Linked DNA regions of Homo sapiens. The protein of the gene in region 1 purifies or fractionates together with the protein of each later gene. This does not show direct contact. Each region holds a gene or a part of one and is shown in the gene's direction. Other genes may lie near its edges.

Region 1 (7,027 bases):
TAGTTTTTGGAGTACACTTTATTATTATTACCGTCAGCCAGTACATGATTTTCCATTGCCTTATACGTTTTCCACTGTAGCATTAAAAAAAAAATTTTTTTTTTATTATTACACTGTAAGTTCTGGGATGCATGTGTAGAACGTGCAGGTTTATTACATAGGTATACACGTGCCGTGGAGGTTTGCTGCACCCATCAACCCATCATCTACGTTAGGTATTTCTGCTAATGCTCTCCCTCCCCTAGCCCCCAACCACCTGACCGACCCCGGTGTGTGATGTTCCCCTTCCTGTGTCCATGTGTTCTTATTGTTCAACTCCCACTTATGAGTGAAAACATGTGGTGTTTGGTTTTCTGTTCCTGTGTTAGTTTGCTGAGAACGATGGTTTCTAGCTTCATCCATTTCTCTACAAAGGACATGAACTCATCCTTTTTTATGGCTGCTACTGTAGCATATTTTTAGCTTTAAAATTCCAATTAGTCTCAGGTGAATTGTTAATGACAGACAGGTGTGACTTAGTAGAAAAAACTGGAGAGACAGTTGAAGTAATCTTTCTCATATTTTTCAGTGGCTAGATAGCATGTCTGTAATTTCTTAACTCTTTAGTTTCTTCTATTTCAAAACATGATAATGATCTCAAATATAACCTTCCTCCCAAAATCTCAGGGATACTTTACCAATCTATTGTTTGCTTTGGTGGGATTATAATAACTGTGATATAGGTTGGGAGGCCAAGGTGGGTGGATCACCTGAGGTCAGGAGTTCGAGATCAGCCTGGCCAATGTGGCAAAACCCCTGTCTCTACTAAAAATACAAAAAAATTAGCTGGGCGTGGTGGGACGCGCCTGTAATCACAGCTACTCAGGAGGCTGAGGCAGGAGAATCGATGAACCTGGGAGTTAGAGGTTGCATTGAGCCAAGATCGCACCACCGCACTCCAGCCTTGGCGACAGAGCGGGACTCTGTCTCAAAAATAAATAAATAAATAAATAAATAAATATGATATGATATGGGATATTCAAAGGTGTTAATGTTGTAAGGAAAGGAAAAATAACATTTCATATAAGGAGGAAAGGGTTGATGGAAAGCATAATCTATTATTGTGCCTGATCTTTGAGCTGCTAGGCACCTTATCAGAATGCTGTTTGAGGAGTGTTTTCATTATGTTTAAAGCTTTCAGAGAAAGTAGGATTTTCTGATACAAGTAGAAAAATAGAAAAAAGTAGATATGTTTTTCTACTTTTAAGAAGGGAAGGCTTACTAGGAATTATTTTTAAATGAATGAAAGAGTAGAAGGAGGAAGAATAGGCAGTATCCGTGTGTGATTTCTCTGTGTCAAACACCATAGATGTAGTTTTTTATGCACATTTTCTCTAATTCTCAAAACAGTGCTTAGATTATAATATCTGTGTTTGCATATTATGAAATTAAGGCTCAGAAAAGTTAAGAAATTTGTCTAGCATCATATAGTTAGGAGATAAAATTTTGTACCCAGAAATCTCTAACTCTGTATACCACACTGTGTATCAAACTAATGAGAAAGAATAGTGACACCAACGGTTAGGACTTCAGACATTTACATTTGTGCTGAATGTAGAAGAGGGTGCTTAACACTTGAAATGCGTGCTCAAGTACAATAGTTAATAATATGAGATTGTGTGGGGTATGATTGTGTGCCTCATCCCTGTTTATTGTATGCCCCAAGATTCTTTCATCTGCTGCAAAAAAGCACAGTGCAGATTATGTGTGGTATCACAGCAGGCATTACGGGCATGGGTATGCCTTCTGGATGCAAGGGTGGAATTGGAGGTGCTGTAGCCTTTAGAGGAGAAACCCACTTGCCTTGTTCAAATCAGTTGGCGTATAATGGTGGAAAGTTGTTATATTTGTTTATAATGATATGAGTTGAGCAAACTTGCTTGTTTTTTAAATTTTACGAATTTTAACTTTAAGTTCTTGGAACCAAGTGCTTTATTCCAAATAGGATATGATAATTATATTGACAAGTGTTGAACAATATGTCATTGTAACAGTTTTTCTTTGTGTAATTGACTTCAATAATCTTGAGGGTGTTTTCTGCACCTATTGTTAGAAAAGTTGGAGTGCCCTTGTAAGGGTTGGAGTGAGTGGTTCTTCTCTTGCCATTATAATTGACTGTAGTTAGCATATGGTCTAATTTATTTTAAGAGCACCTCTTAATAAGCCTTGATTTTGTTGAAAATCAGGCTAAAACCATCTTCCTTGCACTTCCTCATTACTTGGTTGTTAGCATAATATTAACTATTATTAGATCCCACATATCTCTTTATCTTGATCTAAAGAACATTGTTAGGGCTAGGAGTCCTGCAGTTTTCATTTAACCCATTTGTGATCTCTTGTGAGGAGGATGGAGCTATTGGTTATATGCCTGAATCATTTGGGAGGTATATATACTAATTTTTGCTGTTGAACCTCAAAGAACAATCAGGTTAGAAATACGAAGTAAGACTTAGAACGTTAAGCCTATGCCTGGGAGGCAGAATGTATATATATTAACCAGAGATGCTTGCATGTAGGGAGAATGCTGGAGAACCAGACTCCTGGAGCAGTTTATCCTATGAAATACCGTATGGAGACTGTTCTGTGAGGCATCATCGAGAGTTGGACATCTATACATTAACCTCTGAGTCTGATTCACATCATGAACACCCATTTCCTGGAGACGGTTGCACTGGACCAATTTTTAAACTTATGAACATCCAACAGCAACTAATGGTAAGTCAGAAAGCTTTTATTTTTAAGTATATGCATGTGTATGTGTGTGTTTTGTATGTGTGTGTCCCCGCCCTCCTCCAATGAACCTTGATATAATTAGAACATAAAAATGCTTTCCTGGTGGGAGGCTGAGACGGGCGGATCACGAGGTCAGGAGATGGAGACCATCCTGGCTAACACGGTGAAACCCTGTCTCTACTAAAAATACAAAAAATTGGCCGGCCTGGTGGCGGGCGCCTGTAGTCCCAGCTACTCGGAAGGCTGAGGCAGGAGAATGGCGTGAACCCAGGAGGCGGAGCTTGCAGTGAGCCGAGATCACGCCATTGCACTCTAGCCTGGGCAACAGAGCGAGACTCCGTCTCAAAAAAAAAAAAACTTTCCTGGCCAGGCACAGTGGCTCATGCCTGTAATCCCAGCACTTTGGAAGGGCCAACACAGGTGGATCACTTGAGCTCAGGAGTTTGAGACCAGCCTGGGCAACATGGAGAAACTCTGGCTCTACAGAAGTTAGCTGGGCATGGTGGCGTACGCCTATAGTCCCAGCTACTTGGGGGTCTGAGGCAGGCAGATCATGTGAGCCTGGGAGGCAGAGGTTGCAGTGAGCTGAGATGACACCACTGCACTCCTGCCGGGGTGACAGAGCAAGACCTTGTCTCAAAAACAGAAAAAGAAGGACTTTCCCCAAAGATTCTGAGACCTGTAAAGCAGTATTAGCAGTATTAAATGTTACCACTTACAGATCAGAGCTAGCATTAAGGTTGTAGCCGTAGGGGGACTGAGAGGTTTTTTTCATTGGTTTTGGGAATAATGGAAGACACACATTTCAGGTACAGAAATATGCAACAACTAGAACTAAATTTCTGGCATAAAAGGATATTTGTCTGTGTTTGGCTTAACTTTACAAAATGAAAGAACCAACAGTTTCTGAGATTGTTGCCAAAGAACAAGAACCAAATTTAATCAGGAGTATTTTTACAACTATTTTAGTGGCGATGATATGTACCATTTAAATATAGTGTTACTATATTTAAATCAATAGTTGTATGGTACAAAGATAGCTAAAAAAAACAGAAAAGATTTTATAATCCACTCAAGTCTTCAAGATAAAGTTGTTGCCAGACATAAAAACATTACAGACTCCCTGTTAGCATTTATTACGAATAACATAAACGTCATATGTGTACATCTCTCTTGGGCATAACATCTGAAAGGCTGTGTTTAGGTAATTTTTCCACCCAGTTTATTTCAGAGCTGATTTGATTTGGAAACCACTGGACAGTAATTTCATTTAAGGTCAGCTCAATGCCAGAGGCTTCTTTGGGAGCATGCATTATTTGAGACCAGCAAGCCAAGAAATTCCATAGGGTTATGTGATGCTCCCACTTTTGTGTTTTAGAATTGTGTTTGTTCCAGAGCACGTGACATTTCATTTTCCTCTGAATGGACTTCTAGGCAATCAGGTTTTTCCTTAGAGCTCTTTTTACTAGGTGAATGGTAGTTCACTTGAAAATATAGTTTTGCAGGTACCAAAGCTACCTGCCAAGATATGGAAATGGTTGGCAGGCAAATACGAGAAATTAAAACTGTGGGAACATACATGTGCTACTTTCTTTAGGCAACACTACTTGTTTCGCCAGATTTCTGTTTTATAATGTTTACCATTTATTAAATTTAATGACTTCATTTCCTGATTTTTAGGAGACTGTCGTACTCTCAGCAGGACTGGAAATAAGCTAATTTTGAATACTCTTAAGGAGCCTAACACAGAAGCTTTTAGTGAAAGTCCATTTTGCTTGTACACTCTACTAGAAAGACTTTAACAAGCATGACACATTTTACACTTGTACATATAAACTTTTACAATAGGCTCAGTAGGTAGATAGGAATGGTCTGATGATGGAACCCTGTAAGTGCCCAATATATTCACTGAGTGAGTAGGTGAATGAGAGGATGGATGGCAGTAGGTATGCATATTATTGCAGTAGATCAGGTAATGAATGAATGGCGAGCAAACCAGATGTTTGGAAAAATAGATTTTAGGTGTTGAGAAAATATTTTTATAAGAATTTTTGAAATTTTGATATAAAGGTAAAATCACTAAAGATCACCTGTATTTGTTTTTCTCCATTTTAAACCTTGCTGCATGCACATGGGATTTTTGCATATTTATAAACTTAGATTAATAATTTTTTTCTAATTGCAATATGGTCCTCATAGTTAATAATGGCTAGTATTTCTTCCATCAGTTTTATGAACCTTGATTTTCTTAATCATTCCCATGCTGTTGGTTATATCTGTTTATATTTTTTAAATACTTTAAAGTTGCAAAATCCATTTTTGAGATTACATATAGTATCCATAATATACTCTGACAGTATATAGGTATATGTTCTCATTTATTTTATATTTAATATGTTCTGATTTTATCAAAAGGTGAAAGAATATCTGCCATGCCACTGTTCCTGAAATTATGACCCCATAACTCGATGGTTAAGTTAGATTGGTTGGAACATATTTTGGGGATTAAAGGACACTGAACTCAGTAAGTATTTAGGGCACAGGCACATTGGCTGCACCTTGTAATGGAAAAGAGCTAGGATTTGTTTTTACTTGTATATATGAGGCAGGGTGTAAGTAGACTCTGCCCTTCTGAAGACAATGAAAAATATAGGTGGGACACAGTGGTGTAGGCCCTATAATCCCAGCACTTTGGGAGACCAAGGTAGGAGGATCCCATAGGCTCAGGTGTTGGAGAACAGCCTGGGCAACATAGTGAGACCCCGTCTCTACAAAAAATAAAACAATTAGTCAGGTGCAATGGTGCACACCTGTAGTCCTAGCTACTGAAGAGGCTGAGGCGGCAGGGTCACTTGAGCCCAGGAGTTCAAGGCTGCGGTGAGCTGTGATCACACCACTGCACTTCAGCCTGGCCTCAGAATGAGAGAGCCCACCTTAATGTTAGCAGCTCAATTGAAGATATTCACTGAGCTTTTTAAAAATCAGGTTTTTGAGACTCTTTTATTTTTATTTTTTTTAAGACGGAGTTTTGCTCTTATTGCCCAGGCTGGAGTGCAGTGGTGCTGTCTCGGCTCACTGCAACCTCCGCCTCCCGGGTACAAGCAATTCTCCTGCCTCAGCCTCCCAAGTAGCTGAGATTACAGGCATGCACCACTACGCCCAGCTAATTTTGTATTTTTAGTAGAGACAGGGTTTCTCCATGTTGAGGCTGGTCTCGAACTCCTGACCTCAGGTGATCTGCCTGCCTCAGCCTCCCAAAGTGCTGGGATTACAGGCATGAGCCACCATGCCCGGCGAGACTCAGTTTTCATCTACTTCCTAAAATAAGTTCAAAATTTAGAAAATAGATATTTCATATATCCTAATCTATTTTGAACATCCCAGTATATAGGCAGATATGAAAGGAAAGTAATATCAGAAATAAGAGGAAATTTATTTGTATTCTTTTAGATTCGCTTATCATGTGACCTTAGAAGAGCTAGAATAGAAGTGAGTTCTGTCCAACAGAATTTTTGCTCAGAGGTGTCAGTGACATCTTCTCCTACAGGCAGTTTTTTAAAAGTGTATTTCATTTCCTCCTAGAAAACAAACCTCAAGCAGATGGACAGTCTTATGCCCTTAATGATGACAGCACAGGATCCTTCCAGTGCCCCAGAGACAGATGGCCAGTTTCTTCCCTGTGCACCGGAGCCCACGGACCCTCAGCGACTTTCTTCTTCTGAAGAGACTGAGAGCACTCAGTGCTGCCCAGGGAGCCCTGTTGCACAGACTGAAAGTCCCTGTGATTTGTCAAGCATAGTTGAGGAGGAGAATACAGACCGTTCCTGTAGGAAGAAAAATAAAGGCGTGGAAAGAAAAGGGGAAGAGGTGGAGCCAGCACCTATTGTGGACTCTGGAACTGTATCTGATCAAGACAGCTGCCTTCAGAGCTTGCCTGATTGTGGAGTAAAGGGCACGGAAGGCCTTTCGTCCTGTGGAAACAGAAATGAAGAAACTGGAACAAAATCTTCTGGAATGCCCACAGACCAGGAGTCCCTGAGCAGTGGAGATGCTGTGCTTCAGAGAGACTTGGTCATGGAGCCAGGCACAGCCCAGTATTCCTCTGGAGGTGAACTGGGAGGCATTTCAACAACAAATGTCAGTACCCCAGACACTGCAGGGGAAATGGAACATGGGCTCATGAACCCAGATGCCACTGTTTGGAAGAATGTGCTTCAGGGAGGGGAAAGTACAAAGGAAAGATTTGAGAACTCTA
Region 2 (7,027 bases), on another chromosome or scaffold:
ATGTCTGGCAGCTCCGGGGCAAGTACCCGAATCGAGGCTTTCCCAAGATATTTAACGACAAAACAGTAGGTTAGTGCAGTAAGTCCTTCCTTTCTGCCTCTGATATTCAAGCTGTGGGATTGTGACTTTGAAGACCGGAATCGGTGAGGAGCAGTGGATTTGGATTGTGCAGATTACGGCTGCTTTCATATTGCTCACCTGCCCAACTTTTTAATGGTTTTCAATCTGCTAGATTGGTCCTTATTGCATCAACTAAATTTGGTATTTACTTTATTCTTTCAATAAATGTTTATTGACATCAGTTACATGCTGAGCACTAGGGATAAATGGAAGACAATATAATCCCTGCTGTCTAGCACCTGACTAGCTGGCACATCCAATAGTAATGGGCCCTGCCTGGGCTCCTGTGGACATAAGAGGAGATAGAGCTCAGACTGGGAGGTCAGGGCAGGCTTCCTGGACAAGGTGGTGTTCGAACTGTTTTTGACGATTCAGTGGGAGTTGCCGTGGCTGGGACTGTGGATGTGATATGGTGTTGAAGAAAAGGTCATTCCAGGTAGAGGAGACAGTGTGAGAAGGCACAGGCACATGTGCCTATTTGGGGAACTGCAAGGAGCCCATTGTGCTTGGAGCATTGGGGAGGGAATGGGGATTTAGGGTGATAAACTAGAGAAGTAAGTGAGGTGTTAAATTACTACCCCCACTTCTCACTTCTAGCCTTACCCCAGAATCCACCGACAGAGACACGGAATCCAAATGCAAAGCCATTCAAAGGATCAGGTAGTAGCCAGATCAGAGCAGCAGGGAGGGGTAGACTCACAGAAGCATGGGATTAGGGCTGAGAGGAGCCTAGAAACCAGCCTTTTGCCAAGTTTCCCACGGGGGGGCGTGCCTGGGTGTGCGTGTTCGGATGCTGAGACTCAGGAACTCTCAGGTAGTCAGGAACGTGGTGATGAGCAAGGGGCTTCTTAGTGTGCTGCCCCTGAATCATCACAGGTGAGCTGTCCAGGGGCCGTGGGACAGGCTTCTCACCATGGGCAGGGTGGCCGAGTCTCACGGAAACCGAGATGGTGTCCTCGGAGGCTGGCTCCCACTGCAGGTCCGGGAGCAGGCCAGCCCAGGTGCAGCATTGAAGCCACATGTGAGGATTTGGGCCACACTTCACCCCTTACCACTAACGTTCCCTGTACACATACAATTCCACTGACTTCACAGCGACCTCTGGGGGACGGGGCCTGTGCCTTATATTCACCATGCTTTGTATTCTGTGGTGTCTGGGCCTGGACGCATACAGTGAGGATTTACCGAGTCTGAGTGCATAGGGTGAGGATGTAGCTGTCCTTGTTTAACTCTTCATGGTACTGTTGAAGGCCCCAAATTGAAGAATCCCTTCAGAGGTTGTTACGGTCAAAATGTCAATCGTTACGAATTATATTGTAGTTGGGATTAAAAGCACCACGGAATACGAGGCACAGGTCGCGTCTCCCAGAGGTCACTGCAAAGTCAGTGGAGTTGTATGTGCACGAGGAATGTCAGTGAGGAATGTGGCCTGCTCTTTCTCATCCTCTCTGACAGAATGCTTTGGGGAGCCACAGCTTTGGCTCTCTGCTTTTTGTCCAGTGGAAAACTTGAGTGGCTTGAACTGGGAGAAGCAGACTGTGGGAGCTGCACTTAGCAGGAGCCGCAAAGCCCTGGCTGTTCCACTTTAAGCTGGGTCAGTGGCAAACACCAGAAAGCATTTGAGGAAAATGGAGAAGCCTGAAGAGGGAAGGTGACTGAGGAGGGGTAATGGCTTTTAAAAGAAGCATTGTTTGATGGTTATTTTTGGCATCTTTAAGTGAATTCTAATTCTGTTTTTCTAATAGGTGGAGAGGCCAGGAAGGTCTACGATGATGCCCACAATATGCTGAACACACTGATTAGTCAAAAGAAACTCCGGGCCCGGGGTGTGGTTGGGTTCTGGCCAGCACAGAGTATCCAAGACGACATTCACCTGTACGCAGAGGCTGCTGTGCCCCAGGCTGCAGAGCCCATAGCCACCTTCTATGGGTTAAGGCAACAGGTATGGAAGGTGTACTGACAGCCAGCACACCGCTTTCGCTTGTGAGTTTAAGCACTACACAAAAGAGCTTTGCATAAATGAGGGTCTGCTTCACCTCCTCCCAAATGACCAATCACATGCCCAAGAAGTGACCAGTCACACGCCCAAGCCCAAGCCATCTGTGAGGACGAGGGAGAGAAGGCGCCACCATGGGTGTCAGAGGCAGGACCACTCAGCAGGAGTGAGGCGTTTAATATTGTGTTCCATGGATGGGCGAGGACCATTGCTGCTGTCTCAGGTGGTCACGTGTCAGGATCTCAGTCTTCTTAGCTTCTGAAGAAAGAGAACACTCACTTGTTCAAAAACGTAGGTTAATATCTATGCATATTATTAAAATAGACTGTCAGGTGGCTTCCCTTGAAAGGGGAAGACAGGTGGAAACAAACATTTGCAGAATGTATACCAGGTGCCAGGTGCATAGTAAGGTGCTTGATGGTCATGCTTTTAATTTCCACACAGCCGTGTGAGGCAGTTTAAGTTTGTGTTTTACAGAGAAGATGAAGGATGATGGAGATTGTGCTGGGCCCCCCAATATAGAGAGGAGAGCCCAGCCTGTACATATCCCCAGTGGCCGTTCTTTGACTGTGCTGGCTTTTTTTCTTTCGAGTGACGAGAACAGACTCTTCTCAGCAACTTGTCTCTCATCCCCCCCACCTTTGAAAAGGCAAATATCATATGCATGTCCCTTTAGCTGCTGTAAAAAAGAGTGTCTTAATCAAGAATTGGAACCAGAATTCACCAGAGTCATTAACAAATTTAATAATTTGCAGAAAATTACTCTGTTTTACTGCCATTTTCAGTCGTTCAGAAATAATAATGTTGGCTGGGCACAGTGGCTCACACCTGTAATCCCAGCACTTTGAGAGGCCAAGGTGGGAGGATTGCTTGAGCCTAGGAGTTTGAGACTAGCCCCGGCAAGATGGCAAGACCCTGTCTCTACAAAACAAATTTAAAAATGAGCCGTGCACTGGGGAGTGCAGGCCTGTACTTCTTCAGCCAGCTACTCGGGAGGATGAGGCGGGAGGATCACTTGAGCCTAGGAGATCGAGGCTGCAGTAAGCCATGATCATGCCACTGTATTCCAACCTGGGCAACAGAGTGAGACCCTGTCTCTAAAAAACAAACAAAAAAGATAGTGGCGCATTTTAATCCCAACCACAATATAATTCATAATCATCCATATTTTTACCATAACAGCATCTGAAGGGATTCTTAAATTTGGGGCCTTCAGCAGTACCATGAAGAATTAAACAAGGACAGCTACATCCTTACCATATGCACTTAGGCTCAGTAAATCCTCACTGTATGCGCCCAGGCTCGGACGCCACAGAATATAAGGCACTGGGGTTCTAATGTTAAGTTCCAGCCCCTCCTCACTAGGGAATTTGTGGCTATTCTTTTACAGACATAACTGTTCAAAAACCTCTGCTCTAGCCCAGTCTTTCATCTTTCAAGTCCTGTGTCCTCTGCGATCTCTTTTTACTTTCAGTACCATTCATGTCCGGGCAGTCTGTGACATATTAGGGCATTTAATAGAATGAATTCTCAGAGTTCACCTTTTTAGTAGCCTCTGGAGAGGGGAACTGGGCCAGGCACATACATTACCTACCCAGGTAGCAATTTCTCAGGAGGGGCTTTCCTCCAGTGCACTCTGGAACATTCTGGTGGCAGTGCCTTATTACTCTGGGAGTCTGCTCTTCTGAGTAGGCTCTGATTGCTGTCTCTTCGAAGGTACCATGGGGCTCTGTGATCTCTCTCTCCTGTGGCGCAGGGAAGCTTTGGGTCCCCCTCTGGCCTTTGTTAGCAAAGAATAATTGATGGGCCGAGTATACCTGGAAAACGGCTTCCCCATGCACAGCTGTCCCTGAGCTCTGTGACATTCCTGTGTGCCATTACCAAACACCTCCTCGCCTGTACTTAACAATTTCCTGCCCTGTGTCAATGAAGCTGTACTTGCTTCCACGGCGGGCAACGAGCTGTGAAGTGTGTGGGTTGGCCACTCATTGATTAATTGATCAGTCCTGAGCAGTACCATATATGTAGACGCATGGGTTGTGGTACCAGCCCCCTGGCCCCTCCCACTGTCTGACCTTGGGCCAGTTGATCAAGCTTCCTATGCCCCTGATTTCTTGTCTGTAAAATGGAGCTGATGGTATCACCTATGTCACAAGGTGGTTGAGAGGGTTAAATAGTAATTCATATAAAGCACCAAGAGCAGGCATACAGTAACCACTGAATGAGTATTATAAGCTATTTACCTTCTCAGCAAATATTTATTGATTTTTTTAATATGTATAAGACTTTATTTGTTACCTTAGTTGCAGGGAAGAGTTGCTTATGAGCTGAGGGTGAAAAATGGGGGAGGGTAGGCCCCAGGGCTGTGGAGAAAATCCAGAAGCAAATCCTGCTGAATTCTTGGTTTGGTGCCCAGCCAGCCCTGGGTGTCCTCAGCCGGCTCCTGTATGACCCTTGACCCCACCCCACATGGCAGGCAGCACATGGCCTGGGCATCGCTGACCCCAACAGTTTGTTGTTTGAGCTGCTGCTGTTGATGGAGAGTGGAGGCGCTTCCATTTATTGGATCTCTTTTGAACATGGTGCTGGACTTAATTGAAAACACTTGGGGACAAATTTTTTTTTTTTTTTAAACCGTGACTTTAGCACAGTGCCTGAAGGCATTCAGTAAATGTTTGGTCAGTGTGTGAATGAGCCAGTGAACTGGTGTCTTGACAATTTATGTTACGTCATGTCATACATTTTTTAAAAATCTCATTTCATTTGTTTATCTTACAAATATTTATTGGATACTCACTATGTGTCAGACACAATTCCAAGTACTGGGGATGTAACAGTGCACAATACAGGCTGCCATCTGTGCGTTGTGAAGCTTATTCTCATTTGACGATACCCGATTGCTCTTCATGGTGTGCTGGCGCCACGTTCTTGCTAACGGCGCCCCCGCACACTCCTACACTCCTTGGTTTTAAGGCTGAGAAGGACTCTGCCAGCACGGAGCCATACTACTGCCTCTCAGACTTCATCGCTCCCTTGCATTCTGGCATCCGTGACTACCTGGGCCTGTTTGCCGTTGCCTGCTTTGGGGTAGAAGAGCTGAGCAAGGCCTATGAGGATGATGGTGACGACTACAGCAGCATCATGGTCAAGGCGCTGGGGGACCGGCTGGCAGAGGTAAGGCAGAGGCATTGCGCCGAGGGGCTGAGGACAGAGGCCAGGCAGTAGGGAGCCTGGGGTGGGTGCCTGAAGACTGATCAGCCCTTAGAACCAGTGTCTTTTTTTTTTTTTTTCTTGAGATGGATGCTGCTGGCTTTAACATTATACGTATTTTAATATTATGTATCCCCAGATTGCTTGTGTACATTATCTTTGAGGCAAAGAAAAACCTTGAATGGTGCCACAGTTGGCTGTTGCTCTTAGAGCCTTTATCTCTACCTTATCTCTGTTGTCTCTCTTTGCTTGTTGTGATGTGACATTTTCCTCAGTACCCCAAAAAATTAAAAACAAATTTTTATTTCAGAGCCCCTCGTTGTAATGCTGGTGTCATCTATAGATTCTTCATCTTCCTCTGCATGGAATGAGGGTAGTAGCCTTTGCCCTGGGGAGAGCCTCTCCCTTTTCCTGCAGTGAACAGTGGAGGAACTAGCAGCTGTATGGTCCCAGCTGCTCTTTCTGGCCCGTGGAGCTTTGGATTGACCTTTAGGGAAATCGTTAATTTTAAGGTCTAAAATCTTTAGGTCATTAAGTATGGTCCTTCAGAGCTCAGGTTGAGGCCAAAATTGAGCTGCAGAGCAGCAGCTGATGAAAGTACAAACCAATCAAGAATCCAGCCTGTTTCCTCTTGTCAAATTTCCCCTGGCTGTGGTCCAGATGAGGGAGGGTGTCCTCATGGTTCTAATTCAGGGGGTGGAGGCTGCACTGATGCTGTGAGCCCCTGCGTCTGCCTAAGCATGCCTGCTGCTTTGGGTCCCAAGGCCTTTGCAGAAGAGCTCCATGAAAGAGTTCGCCGAGAACTGTGGGCCTACTGTGGCAGTGAGCAGCTGGACGTCGCAGACCTGCGCAGGCTGCGGTACAAGGGCATCCGCCCGGCTCCTGGCTACCCCAGCCAGCCCGACCACACCGAGAAGCTCACCATGTGGAGACTCGCAGACATCGAGCAGTCTACAGGTAGGAGCCAGGAGGCTGCGGGTTCCTGTCTTCCTTCTTCAGTAGATACTCTTATCAGCATACTGGCACTTAGGGTTAAACATGTTTTTAAAATGGAAGGGCTTCTAATCACATTGTCCCTTATGCTGTCCTTTTTCACTCGTAGCTATTCTGCATTTTACTTCAGTATTACTGATTAGTATTCTTACATCATTATTTTTAGATGTATCAATTTAAATTATTTCCTCTTGGCCTACGCCAGATGGGAGTTTAGCTTATGTATACCATCCTGTGCCTCTCCTGCCCCAGTTTCCTGTCACAGGCATGGTGATGTCTTTAATCCCTCCCTTAGAGACCGACCTTTGTCCCTCAGTAATGTCACTTTGCTTCATGCTCTTGTCTCATTGCTTGTGGATGGTGTCCCTGGGTGCTGGTCTTGCAGAGCGCCCAGCCTTCCCTTCAGCCCTCTTTTCTCTTTACTTTTACACTGTTAGTAACATTTATATTCTTCTGTAATCATAATTCTCTGTTATGTTTTGCCTGTGGATTGATTCTAAAAGCTGAAAATGACAAGCTGGCATGTGCCTTTCTGAGACAAAGGCCCAGACACCCGGCCTCAGCGTCCTGTGCCCAGAGCTGACTTGGCTCGTGGTTCTGTGGCTGCACATTGTCATGTCAATGTCCTGGTTCTGTCATTACTGCAGAGTTCATGTAGTTGAGATGGCCCAGGCTAAGCTCACAGTTTTCAGCGGAATTAATAAAAAG

The links. The genes of interacting proteins can lie anywhere in the genome.
Region 2: the proteins of AKAP13 (region 1) and MTR purify together in Homo sapiens (affinity purification with mass spectrometry; 3 studies listed by BioGRID and IntAct, with this or other methods). This does not show direct contact.

What each region holds. Positions count from the first base shown.
Region 1 is NC_000015.10:85,572,576-85,579,602, forward strand, and holds part of AKAP13 (A-kinase anchor protein 13), read left to right. Parts: intron 1-2,555; coding exon 2,556-2,754; intron 2,755-6,354; coding exon 6,355-7,027. UniProt on the Homo sapiens protein: Scaffold protein that plays an important role in assembling signaling complexes downstream of several types of G protein-coupled receptors.
Region 2 is NC_000001.11:236,889,268-236,896,294, forward strand, and holds part of MTR (methionine synthase), read left to right. Parts: coding exon 1-69; intron 70-1,865; coding exon 1,866-2,062; intron 2,063-5,089; coding exon 5,090-5,290; intron 5,291-6,090; coding exon 6,091-6,283; intron 6,284-7,027. UniProt on the Homo sapiens protein: Catalyzes the transfer of a methyl group from methylcob(III)alamin (MeCbl) to homocysteine, yielding enzyme-bound cob(I)alamin and methionine in the cytosol. MeCbl is an active form of cobalamin (vitamin B12) used as a cofactor for methionine biosynthesis.